Regions from separate parts of the Homo sapiens genome. Here region 2 is linked to region 1. The links come from fine-mapping of genetic effects on gene expression. A gene starts in region 1. The other region holds a variant in brackets. All regions are shown on one strand. Distances are from middle to middle. Region 1 holds the start of CYTH1 (cytohesin 1). Region 2 overlaps CYTH1 (cytohesin 1).

The links. PIP is the estimated chance that this variant, and not a neighbour inherited with it, causes the effect.
Region 2: its variant is fine-mapped to the expression of CYTH1 in whole blood (TOPMed, PIP above 0.99).

The regions. Positions count from the first base shown.
Region 1 is chr17:78,779,007-78,784,367 of GRCh38, forward strand. CYTH1 (cytohesin 1) reads right to left here and starts at 3,267. Exons shown (of 14, transcript NM_004762.6): 1 at 3,196-3,267. The coding sequence starts at 3,217. RefSeq lists an enhancer at 1,269-1,368 and silencers at 2,387-2,786, 3,047-3,326, 3,367-3,526.
Region 2 is chr17:78,672,348-78,677,708 of GRCh38, forward strand. CYTH1 (cytohesin 1) reads right to left here. Exons shown (of 14, transcript NM_004762.6): 14 at 1,701-3,822. The coding sequence ends at 3,744. Among named protein-coding and RNA genes, the nearest start is that of SCAT1, 43 kb to the left of the region's middle. RefSeq lists enhancers at 2,712-3,590, 3,854-4,355, 4,356-4,855. The variant A/C (reference allele first, on the strand shown) is at 2,382.

The DNA.
Region 1 (5,361 bases):
TCTTACACCATCAGGTACTTTTTGTGTGGTGACCCTCTGGGTGGGGAATCTTCAATCTTTTTAGTTCCTCCAAAATAAAAGGATGATATTTAAAACTGTAGAAAGGGGAACAGGCCAGGCGGGGTGGTTCATGCCTGTAATCCCAGCACTTTGGGAGGCTTAGGCAGGCAGATCACCTGAGGTCAAGAGTTTGAGACCAGCCTGGACAACACAGAGAAACCCTGTCTCTACTAAAAATACAAAATTAGCCAGGCGTGGTGGCGCATGCCTGTAATCCCAGCTACTCAGGAGGCTGAGGCAGGAGAATCGCTTGAAGCTGGGAGGCAGAGGTTGCAGTGAGCCGAGATTGCGCCATTGCACTCCAGCCTGGGCAACAAGAGTGAAACTCCATCTCAAAAAAAAAAAAAAAAAAAAAAAGAAAGGGGAAGAATAAACTTACAAACTTTCTCATCTTCGTGTGTGGCAGACAGAATAACAGCCCCTAAAGAAGTCCGGGTACTAATCCCCAGAACTTGTGAATAGGTTACCTTACATGGCAGAAGGGGAATTAAGGTAACAGATGGAATTAAGGTTGCTAATCCTTAGCCTTGATTATCCAGGTGGGTCCCACTATAATCACAAGGATCTTAATAAGAGGGAGGTAGGAGGTCGAGAGAAATGAGAAGATGCTACCTGCTGGCTTTGAAGATGGAAAGGGGACTATGAACCATGGAACACAGGTGGCCTCTAGAAGCTGGAAAAGGTAAGGAAATGGGTTCTCCCCTGAGCCTCCAGAAAGAACCAGCCTGTCCGACACCTTGGCTTTAGCCCAGTGAGACCTATTTTGGACTTCTGACAGCAGAACCCTAAAACAAATGTTATGTTGTTTTGAGCCACCAGGCTTGTGGTAATATAACAGGTATAGGAAACTAACACGCCCTGCTTCCACTTACCTCTTTCAAGTACAAGTTCATGTCATGCCTGGTGGCAAAGCAGTCACTGTATTAAAAGCAACCAGACCAATAGCTTCCTGCCCACGGCAGCAGGCAAGAACACAAGAGAGGCCACAAAAGCCTGGTAGGCAGGACACTGGGATCTGAGGGAAATTAAATGGCAAGAGGAGGCAGAGAAAAGAGCAGCAGGCAAAACTGCTGTCGGCTTCTCAGCAGTGGGCAGGAGTGAAATCTGGAGGGGCTGAACAATCTTTTGGGGCCAGCCAGTGGGTGATTTTTCTTTTAATCACAAAAGGAGGCTGGGAGCAGTGGCTCATGCCTGTAATCCCAACACTTTGGGAGGCCAAGATAGGAACTGGAGTTCACACCAGCCTAGGCAACATAGGGAGACCTCCCTCTCTACAAAAAGAAATAAAAATAATTAGCAGGGCGTGGTAGCCCAGGCCTGTAGTCCAGGTTACAGGAGGGGCTGAGAAGAGAGGTGAGAGGATTGCTTGAGCCAAGGAAGCAGAGCGTGCAGTGAGCTATGAGAGCGCCCCTGCACTCCAGCCTGCGCAAGAGAGCTAGACCCTGTCTCAAAAACACAACAAAACAAACAACAAAAAAATGCACAAGCTGCTTTTACTTGTTTACTTATAAGGTAACAAGTGGGCTGGGTGTGGTGGCTCAGGCCTGTAATCCCAACACTGTGCGAGGCAGAGGTGGGAGGACTGCTTGGGTCTAGGAGTTCAAGACCAGCCTGGGTAACATGGCAAGACCCCATCTTTTAAAAAAGTAAAAAATTAGGGCTGGGCGCGGTGGCTCATGCCTGTAATCCCAGCACTTTGGGAGGCCGAGGCGGGTGGATCACCTGAGGTCAGAAGTTCAAGACCAGCCTGGCCAACATGGCAAAACCCTGTCTCTACTAAAAATACAACAATTAGACAGGCGTGGTGGCACGCGCCTGTAGTCCCAGCTACTCAGGAGCCTGAGGCAGGAGAATCGCTCAGCTCACCCAGGAGGCCGAGGTTGCAGTGAGCCGAGATGGCGCCACTGCACTACAGCCTGGGCGACAGAGTGAGACTCCGTTTCAAAAATAAAATAAAATAAAATAAAATAATAAAATAAAATAAAATAAAAAATTAGCCGGGCATGGTGGCGTGCGTATGGTTCCAGCCACTCAAGAGGCTGACGTGAGCTACGATCACGCCACTGTGCTCCAGCCTGGGTGACAGAGCGAGATCTCGTCTCTTAAAAAAAAAAAAAAAAGAAAAATGTCCCATTAGTTATTAAACTAGAATTGGGTTCCATTTGGCCACAGAGTTCTGCTTTATTTGTACTTTGCTACCAAACCACAAAAGTTCACCACTTGTTCTATTTGCCATTCTTCCTTTTAATTCCTCATGAACAAACTTAATAAATTAACTACAGCATGTCAAACAACCTTTTGCAACCCTTGCAATTTCAAACTCTTGGAGGGAGGCACCCCTGGCCTGGGCCAGCAGCCTCAACGCGCGGGAGCGAAGGGAGCGGGACAGCGGCTCCGCTTGCCAAGTCCCCAGTCAGGGGAGGAGCGGCGTCCCCACCGCGGTGCCCCTCGGGCTCCACACCCGCGTCTCGGCAGGCGGCGACGCACCGGACCGGCGGCTACCGGGCCCAGACTCCCGCGGGCAGGGCCGTCCCGGAGCCCGCGCCTCGCCGGCGGCGCCGCTCCCCGTTCTCATTTCTGAACAAAGACGTGGACCGGGCACAACTCGCTGACGCCGAGAGCGGCCGGAAACTGCGGGGAACGCGGGCCCGGCCATCCGCGCGTCCGCCCCGAGCCCCGCAGAGGGGCGGCAGGGCCAGCGACCTCCACCCCTCGGCCCCCCGGGACCCGGACTGCGACCCCTGCCCCGGGGACCCCAGCGACCCCAACGACTCTCATCCCTCAGAGCCCCTGAGATCCTGCCCCGCGACCCCAACGACCCTCATTCCTCAGAGCTCGCGGCGACCCCTGGCCCCGCGAGACCGCGAGCCCGGCCTGTGACCCCCGCCCCAGCCACCCACATCCCTCAGCGCCGCCAGCGACCCCGGCCCCGGCGACCCTCATCCCTCAAAACCCCCTGCGACCCCCGCCCCGCGAGGGCCCCGCGCACCGCTCGCCCGCCGGTCGCCCCGGGCTCCGCGTCCCGCACCAGTGTCCCCGGGAAACGCCAGCCGCCGCAAGCGCTGCCGGACGGCCGGGCCCGGAGGGGACTGGGGGACAGCGAGGGGGAAGCGTCCGCCGCCGGGGCGCACTGACCGTAGCTGTCGTCCTCCTCCATGGTGCGGGAGCCGGGCTCCGCGCTCCGGCTCGCCGCTCGCGTCCCGCCGCGCCACCCGCGCCCCCGCTCGCCTCAGCCCGGCTCGGAGCCCCGCCCCCGGCGCCCCGCGCCCCGCGCCCCGCCCGCCCGCGCCTGCGCCTGCGCCCGCCCCCTGCCCCCGGCCCGAGGCCCCGCCCCTCGCCCGAGGCCCCGCCTTCCTCCCGCGCGCGCCGCACCCCGGGTACCCGGCCTCCTCCCGAGGCTCCGGCCTGCGCACGCGCGTCCACCCGAGGCTCCTCCCCTGCCCCCGCCTCTAGACCACGCCCCCGTCCCGAGACACACACACCCCCCCCCCTTCTCCCGGTCCGCCTCCTGGGGCCGAGCAGGTTTCGGTTTCTGAAGGGCGGTGCAAGTCCCCGGGGTGGCGGACTCGACCTGGCCTGCAGCCAGGCTACTGCACGAAAGCCCAAGGTCGTGTCCGGCCACTGAAGGGCAGGGTGGTCCTTGCTGACGCCAACCTGGAAGGTCAGACCCGGCCCCAGCTTGCCAGGGAGGGCCCGGTCCTTGGCGAAAGGCCACAAAAGCTATTTGAAGTCATTTACTCCTGCGTTCAGAACCTTTACATGCTGTATGTCCTAAGTTTACTGCTTCTACTTCTTTTTATTTGTCCTGAGTTTTACCTGGGTCAAGATTGAAAGGAGGGCACTTCAAGTCCCAGCGTTTTGGATTTTATTTATTTATTGGAGACGAGTTTCGCTCTTGTTGCCCAGGCTGGAGTGCAGTGGCCCGATCTCGGCTCACTGAAACCTCCGCCTCCCGGGTTCAAGCGATTGTCCTGCCTCAGCCTCCTGAGTAGCTGTGATTACAGGCATGTGCCACCAGGCCCGACTAATTGTATTTTTAGTAGAGACGGGGTTTCGCCATGTTGGCCAGGCTGGTCTCGAACTCCTGACCTCAAATAATCCGCCTGCCTCGGCCTCCCAAAGTGCTGGGATTACAGGTATGAGCCACCGCGCTCGGCCTTCTCTTTCTTTATGACAGAGGACAATCCCACTGCTGCAGAATGCCAGCACCAGAACCCCCCTTTCCCCCTGCAGTCACTTGTGGCTCCTGCACCCTACACAGAACACTCACTGAGAACTCCACAGAGATCCCTGGACTGCTGGGAATTTTTTGGACCAACCAAAAAACGGGAGTAAAAGCCACAGAACTCTTTCCTTGTGGGCCCACCTGTCCTGAGTTTTACTATTTTTCTTTTTCTTTTATTTATTTATTCATTTTGAGACAGAGTCTCACTCGCTGTGTTGCTCAGGCTAGAGTACGGTGGCACCATCATGACTCCCTGCAACCTCTGCTTCCCAGGCTCAAGCAGTTCTCCCACCTCAGCCTCCTGAGTAGCTGAGACTGCAGGCACCGGCCACCATACCTGGTTAATTTTTGTATTTTTTGTAGAGACGGAGGTTGCTAGGTTGCCCAGGCTGGTCTCGAACTCCTAGGCTCAAGTGATCCTTTCTCTTTGGTCTCCTTCCTTGGCCTCCCAAAGTACTGGAATTACAGGCGTGAGCCACCACGCCTGGCTGGATTCATGATCTTAACCTTCACTGACTTTACCAGATTGTCCAGTTTTACAGGTGACCTTAGAGAGTCACATTTTGGCCCTAACGTGTCCTTGGGCTTCGGCGTGTGAGGTCAGAGACCCAGCTGCATTTTGTTCCTCTTGGCCTAGACTTAGGACACTTTTAGAATTGACCCCACATTGACCTGGCAAATCTTCTCAAACCATCTGTCACATGGGCTAATGGAGCACTGAGCCTCTCCCCCAGTATTTGCCATCCTCTGTTTCACTCCCTACTTCACTTCTAACCCCAGACTCACCAGAAGGTTCAAGGTATCTTCGAGCTGGCTTTCTTCCCTTATCAGTATGCAAGTCCCAGACCACCTCAGCTCTTGCTCAAAGACCAGAACTCCAGAAGAAAAGCGATTCAGATGGCATGTTAATTCTTACTATCAGCACTCTAGACCTCTTAGCTGAACTCACCAACTGAATAGATTTGGAGAGGGAGGGATACTGGTATTACTGCTAATCACAGATTAGCAGAGAACATGACTGTTTACAAATTCTGTTCCCTTATATTGTTCCATTAGACTGGTGTTTTTCAGCTGGG
Region 2 (5,361 bases), 110 kb before region 1:
TGATGAGTAGACAGGGTGTGCTTTGGGGTGATGAACTGTTCTCAAATGGATTTTATTGGCGTTTTAATAACTTCGTGGATGTATTACTATTGCAGGATTTTTCCTTAGTTCAGCTAAACACCTCTTAAAGGTCCTACCTTTTCATACTGTAACAATGGCAGTTACATTTCAACATGAGTTTTGGAGGGAACAGATATTCACACTGTAGCTTTCTGCCACTGGTTCCCCCACACTCGCCAGTCTCAGTACAAAACGCATTCATTCCATCCCGACTGCCCCAAAAGTCCTAACTTGCTCCAGCACCAATTCAAAAGTCCAAAGTCCAGAGTCTCCTCTAGATCAGATATGAGTGAGACTCAAGGAACAATTCATCCTGAGGCAAATCCCCTCCAGCTGAGAGCCTCGAAATTTAACAAGTTATGCACTTCCAAAATACACTGGGGGACAGGCATGAGATAGACATTCCCATTCCAAAAGGGAAAAAAGGGCAAGAAGGAAAGAATAACCAATCCCAAGTAAGTCTGAAACCCAATAGGGCAGACATTAAATCTTAAGACTCCAGAATGATCTCTGACTCATCTTAATGTGATCCCCCAAGGCCAGGAGCAGCCCCACCCTGTGCTGGGTTCTGCCCATGCCGCAGCTGTCACAGGATGGCATCTAGTGCCTACATACAGCTCTCCCGGCTGGGGCGGCAAGCTGGTGGTCCCACAGTTCTGGAGCCTTGGGAGTGGCCCCGTTCCCATGGCTCAGCTAGGCATTATGAAGTCATGTTACCAGCCAATAAATGTAATCTCTCTTCTTTCCTATCTGGATGCCTTTCATTTCTTGCCTAATTGCCCTGACTAGAACCTCCAGTACAATGCTGAATAGAAGTGGTAAGAGTGGACATCTCTGTCTTGTTCCTGAGCTTAGGGAGTTTTCAAATGAGATGGGCGTTTCTGTGGTTTGAGGGAAAGAAATTAATGGGGAAAGAAACTGGGGATATGTATAAGACAAAGGATAATTGACAGAGATGGATCCAGGGGAGACAGGAAAAAAGCAGGCCACTTCTTCTGGCGATGGGAGGGAACAAAAACAACTCTGACTGATGTGGAAAGGTAGGAATGCTGCCCTTCACACCTAATGGTCGTCTCTTCTCAGTAAAGTGGGGCAGTCACCTGGGGAATGGTCAGGGTAGACTGGGGGCTTGAAGCAAGGAGGAAACATCAGGCATGACTGCTGCTGTGTGGAAGAACGCGGACCAGCCCGTGGAGATGGACCCACAGAAGGGGCCAGCCTGGTGCTTTGCTGTCTCTCTGTTCGGTGCTGGTTCACCAAGCGCCTTCCCCTGCTTCTGGGTTCTAGCCCACCTGAGACTTTTCCCTGTTTATTCCCTGGCATTATGAAGTCATCTCTGGAAACTGAAATCATACTAAAAATGTATTATATTGACTGAAGGCATATTTCTTGATCTTAATTTAAAACTGATGTTTCACGTTTCTTCTAAAAAAGTGGGGGCGGTGCAAAGACTAAGTTACTTATCTTTTCTGACTCTGCTCTTCTTAACAGAAGACAGAACCCTCCTCCCACTTTCAAGGTGTTACAACTGAACTCAAGGTGCAGCTGGAGTAACACCCTCCTGCACAAGTGTCCGGTCAGCACCCCTTTCCCACCTCGAGGGCCCCGCCTGAGCCCAGAGACACCGCGAACAACAAAGATGGCTTGGGCAGAGTTGGAGTTTATTTGCTGCAGTTCCTTGGCGCTAGTTTACAAGGCAAAAACAAACAAACAAAAACAATTAGAATAATTATTTCTTAAAAACCCTGTCAACAACTTTCAGTCATTTCTTTATATTTTTGTATTTTGACAAAACTTCTTTTAAACAAATACAAAATAATCTAAAAGGAGAAAAACTATACATAGATTATTTACACCTCTGATAAATAGACTAATACTGACCCAGGTGCCTCTCTGTCTAGGAAACACTTGAGAACCAGGCCAGGGCCCGGGCCAGCTGGACAGGCTCCAGCACCGGCCCAAACACGCCCAGACCTCGGCAGGCACCACCTGGTTCTCCCACCCAGAAAGTTCAGGTTTCCAGCCTGGACCCTCTTCTGTCACCCTCACAAGCTCTGGCACAAAAGTGCCTAAAGCCATTCCCTCCAGGTAGGATCTACACAAAGTGGCGGGGAGGGAGGTGACAGACTGTCCCCCTCTATTCCTCCCACCACTCCTCTGCAAAAGCTATTTCCAGAGATGCTCGCCAACCCTAAAGGATCAGAGGAGCCGTGGCGACGCGGCCCTGTGAAAACCCGCAGCTCCTCCACCTGCCTCCTCAGGGCTGCGCCCTGCACCGCCCTGGTCCAGGGTCCTGTGGAGGGGCGGGGCGAGACGGCCAG[A/C]CAGCCAGCCACCTGCTCTGCCTGGACTGGCATGCTGGCCCTGGCGGAGTGGCAGGAGCTGCCCTGAGAGTCCCTGAGAGAACGGCAGGAAAATGCTGCGTGTCACGGCTCCCTTCATACTGTAATGAGGAGGGGCAGGGCCAGCTCACACAGCGCCTGCAGGGGAAGACAGAGATGCGAGAGGCAGCCCGGCCACCCCCCTCACTCCAGTGCACCCCACGGAGCAGATAAAGGCCCATCTTCCCCTCTAGGGGGCCCACCACAAAATGCATCCAGAGTAGTCCAGTTAGGGCTGGTTTTGAGGCAGAAAAAGCTGAAGCCCTACGGGGATCGGGGAAGTCCTACTCCTTCCTCTAGAACGAGGACTGGAGTCTGGGGAAGAGGAAGAAAACCCAAAATGAAACAGGTTATCCGGAACCTCTGTCCCGATAACCTTCCTCACAGTTTTGGTTATTAGGTATTTAGCTCAAGGAAAATGCTGACTTTCTACTTTAAAGCCCAACAAGAACTTGGATTCTGAAGGAGGAAAATAACGTAAGCGTCCAGTCAGCTCTCTCCTCTCCTCGGCGCTCCGCAGGCACTTGGGATGGAAAAGCATCCGCGGGAGATGCCGGACTGCACGCTGCTGCCGACTGCGACCCCGGCCAGGGCAGGCCCCCGACTCTGACTGTGCCGTCTGAGGCTCCACTGGGCCTCTGCCCTCTGCGTCCTCGACCTCACCTGTCCATCTCGCCCAGACAAGCACCAGGCAGCGAGCTCCCACAGCACAGGAGAGGCAGGCCAGGCCCTGCCGCGGGCCCAGGCTGATGCCCCTTGGCCGCAGCCCCAGGTGCTCTTCTCCAGGGAGAAGCTCCCCAGCGCAGCCAGGGCAGAATGCACCTGAACAGCCCTACGTTCTCTCTTAAAAAAAAAAAAATAGATCTTTATAGTATGTGGCTTCTCTTCCTTTCCACCTTTTTCTCTTAACATATAATAATATATGGACACATGTATTTATGGTGCAGGGTTTGAAGGCTTCTTCACGGGGACAACCAAGAGGTAAACAGTTGGCTCTGAGCTCTGCTACCAGAACACTGAGCAGAGAAACTGGCCAGGAGGCTGCCCTGCCGACAAGAGCTCTGCCCTGTGAGAGAGGAAGGCTCTGGAGCCCATGCTGGACAGGTGGCCGGTCCTCTCTTCCCCAGTGATAACTGCCCACCCTTCTCCCACTTAAAAAAAATAGCAAAAGCTGAAGCTAGTCTCTAGGAATCCAGGGCGGGGCCTGGCAGAGGACGCTCTGCTCGGCAGCAGTGCATCCATGGAGGTGCGGGAGAAGAGCAGGAGCTCCAAGGCCCCCGCAGACCAACGCCCTTGGCTGCACGCTCAGTGTCGCTTCGTGGAGGAGACCTTCTTTTTCCGTGCTGCGAGCATTTCGTAGAAAGGGTCCCTGCTGATGGCTGCTCTGGAGCACAGAAAAGGGAGAAAACAGAGACGTGAGGGACAGAATCAGAAGAAACACACCCAGGCAGGGGATTCTCAGGGGCCCCTCGTGCCCCAGAACACCTGTCCCACCCCACCATCACTGCAAAGGCCAAGTTAGCGTCCTCCACCCTTGCTGTGTCCACACAGTGACCTAAGGTGACACACTTCGAAAGAGACACAGGAACACGTGACAAGAAAATTTTGGGGTTTTTACCTGTTTCAACATAATAATCAATTCACATTTAGGAACAGAATCATACCACATTCTTACAGCTATATTCCAATTCAGAGAAAAAGACTGGTGCTTGAGTTTCCATGATGACATCTGACTTTGCTTTGCAGCAGCGAGTGCCACGTAATCAAGCCGTGTCACATGCAGTCCTCTGGCACGGGGTGTGTGATAGCTGGCATGGTAATGCAGTGGGGCCTTCCAAGCCCCCCACGTGCACCTGCTCAGTAACTAAGGCTCCATGACTCTGCAGGCGGCACTGCCCAGCACGATGCTGCTGGTGGGGCACCATGGACAGACCGGCTGGACCTGGCTGGGTCTCCGGTGCACAGGGAGGGGGCCCGAGCTCATGCTTGTGCTACAGCCTCAAAGACAGCAGCGCAGGCCGCGCCGCGGGCTGGAGCACCTGCAGTGGACTGGCAACACCACAACCCTATGTCTGCCATTCTCGACTTTCAAGCAACTTATGGTCTAAAAGTCCTGACACTTAATTTCTTTCCAGGGAAGCTGTATCCTAAGTGATGATTTGTTCCAGAGCTCGGGCACAAGCCTCCTGACTGCAGGCAGGGCACTCACCCCTGCTGAACGGTGGCACCAGCAGCTGCTATGGCTCTCCTGGGCTGACCTGGAACCTATTCACAAGAGACAGTGTGTCCATGAGAAAATGCTTCCGCAGCTCCCCGGGGAATGCTAGGAACTGAAGAGCACTAGAAACATGTCCCGATGGGATCTCACTGGGAAGCGGTCTGACCACCTGAAGTGCTTTCACGAGGGAATCTGGCGGCCGGGACACCTGCTTTCATGTTTGGAGGTGTTGGGGTGAATCTCCCTTGGCTTCCTGGGTAGGCCAACCCTTTCGGGTAAGCTGGGGGGTTCTGCAGAGAGGTGCGTGTGGCACTGCCCTGTGTGCAGAGGCAGAGTGTCAGGCGATGAGGGGGGCTGGGCTGCGGTCGGACACCAGGCCCCAGGCCCGGCCCTGCCTGGCCCTGCCTGCTGCTTCTCAACTCCCGCTTCCTCACATGCAAGCTGGAGATGCCCCACCTCCACCTCCCTGGGTTCCGGAGAGTCAAAAAGAGATCCCATATTCAAAGAGCACATCTCAGCGCCTAGCCGACACACTCGATGGCAGCCGCTGTTACCGCTGACACGCAGTTCTACTGCTGTACCTCTGGGTACAGCGTGAAGAAAGTCCCAGCATTAGAGAACACACCTGATTCTACAGAACCGAATGCTGGGACCACCCACACGCAGGGGCACTAGAACTGAGGGTGCTGGGAACTCCAGGAAAAG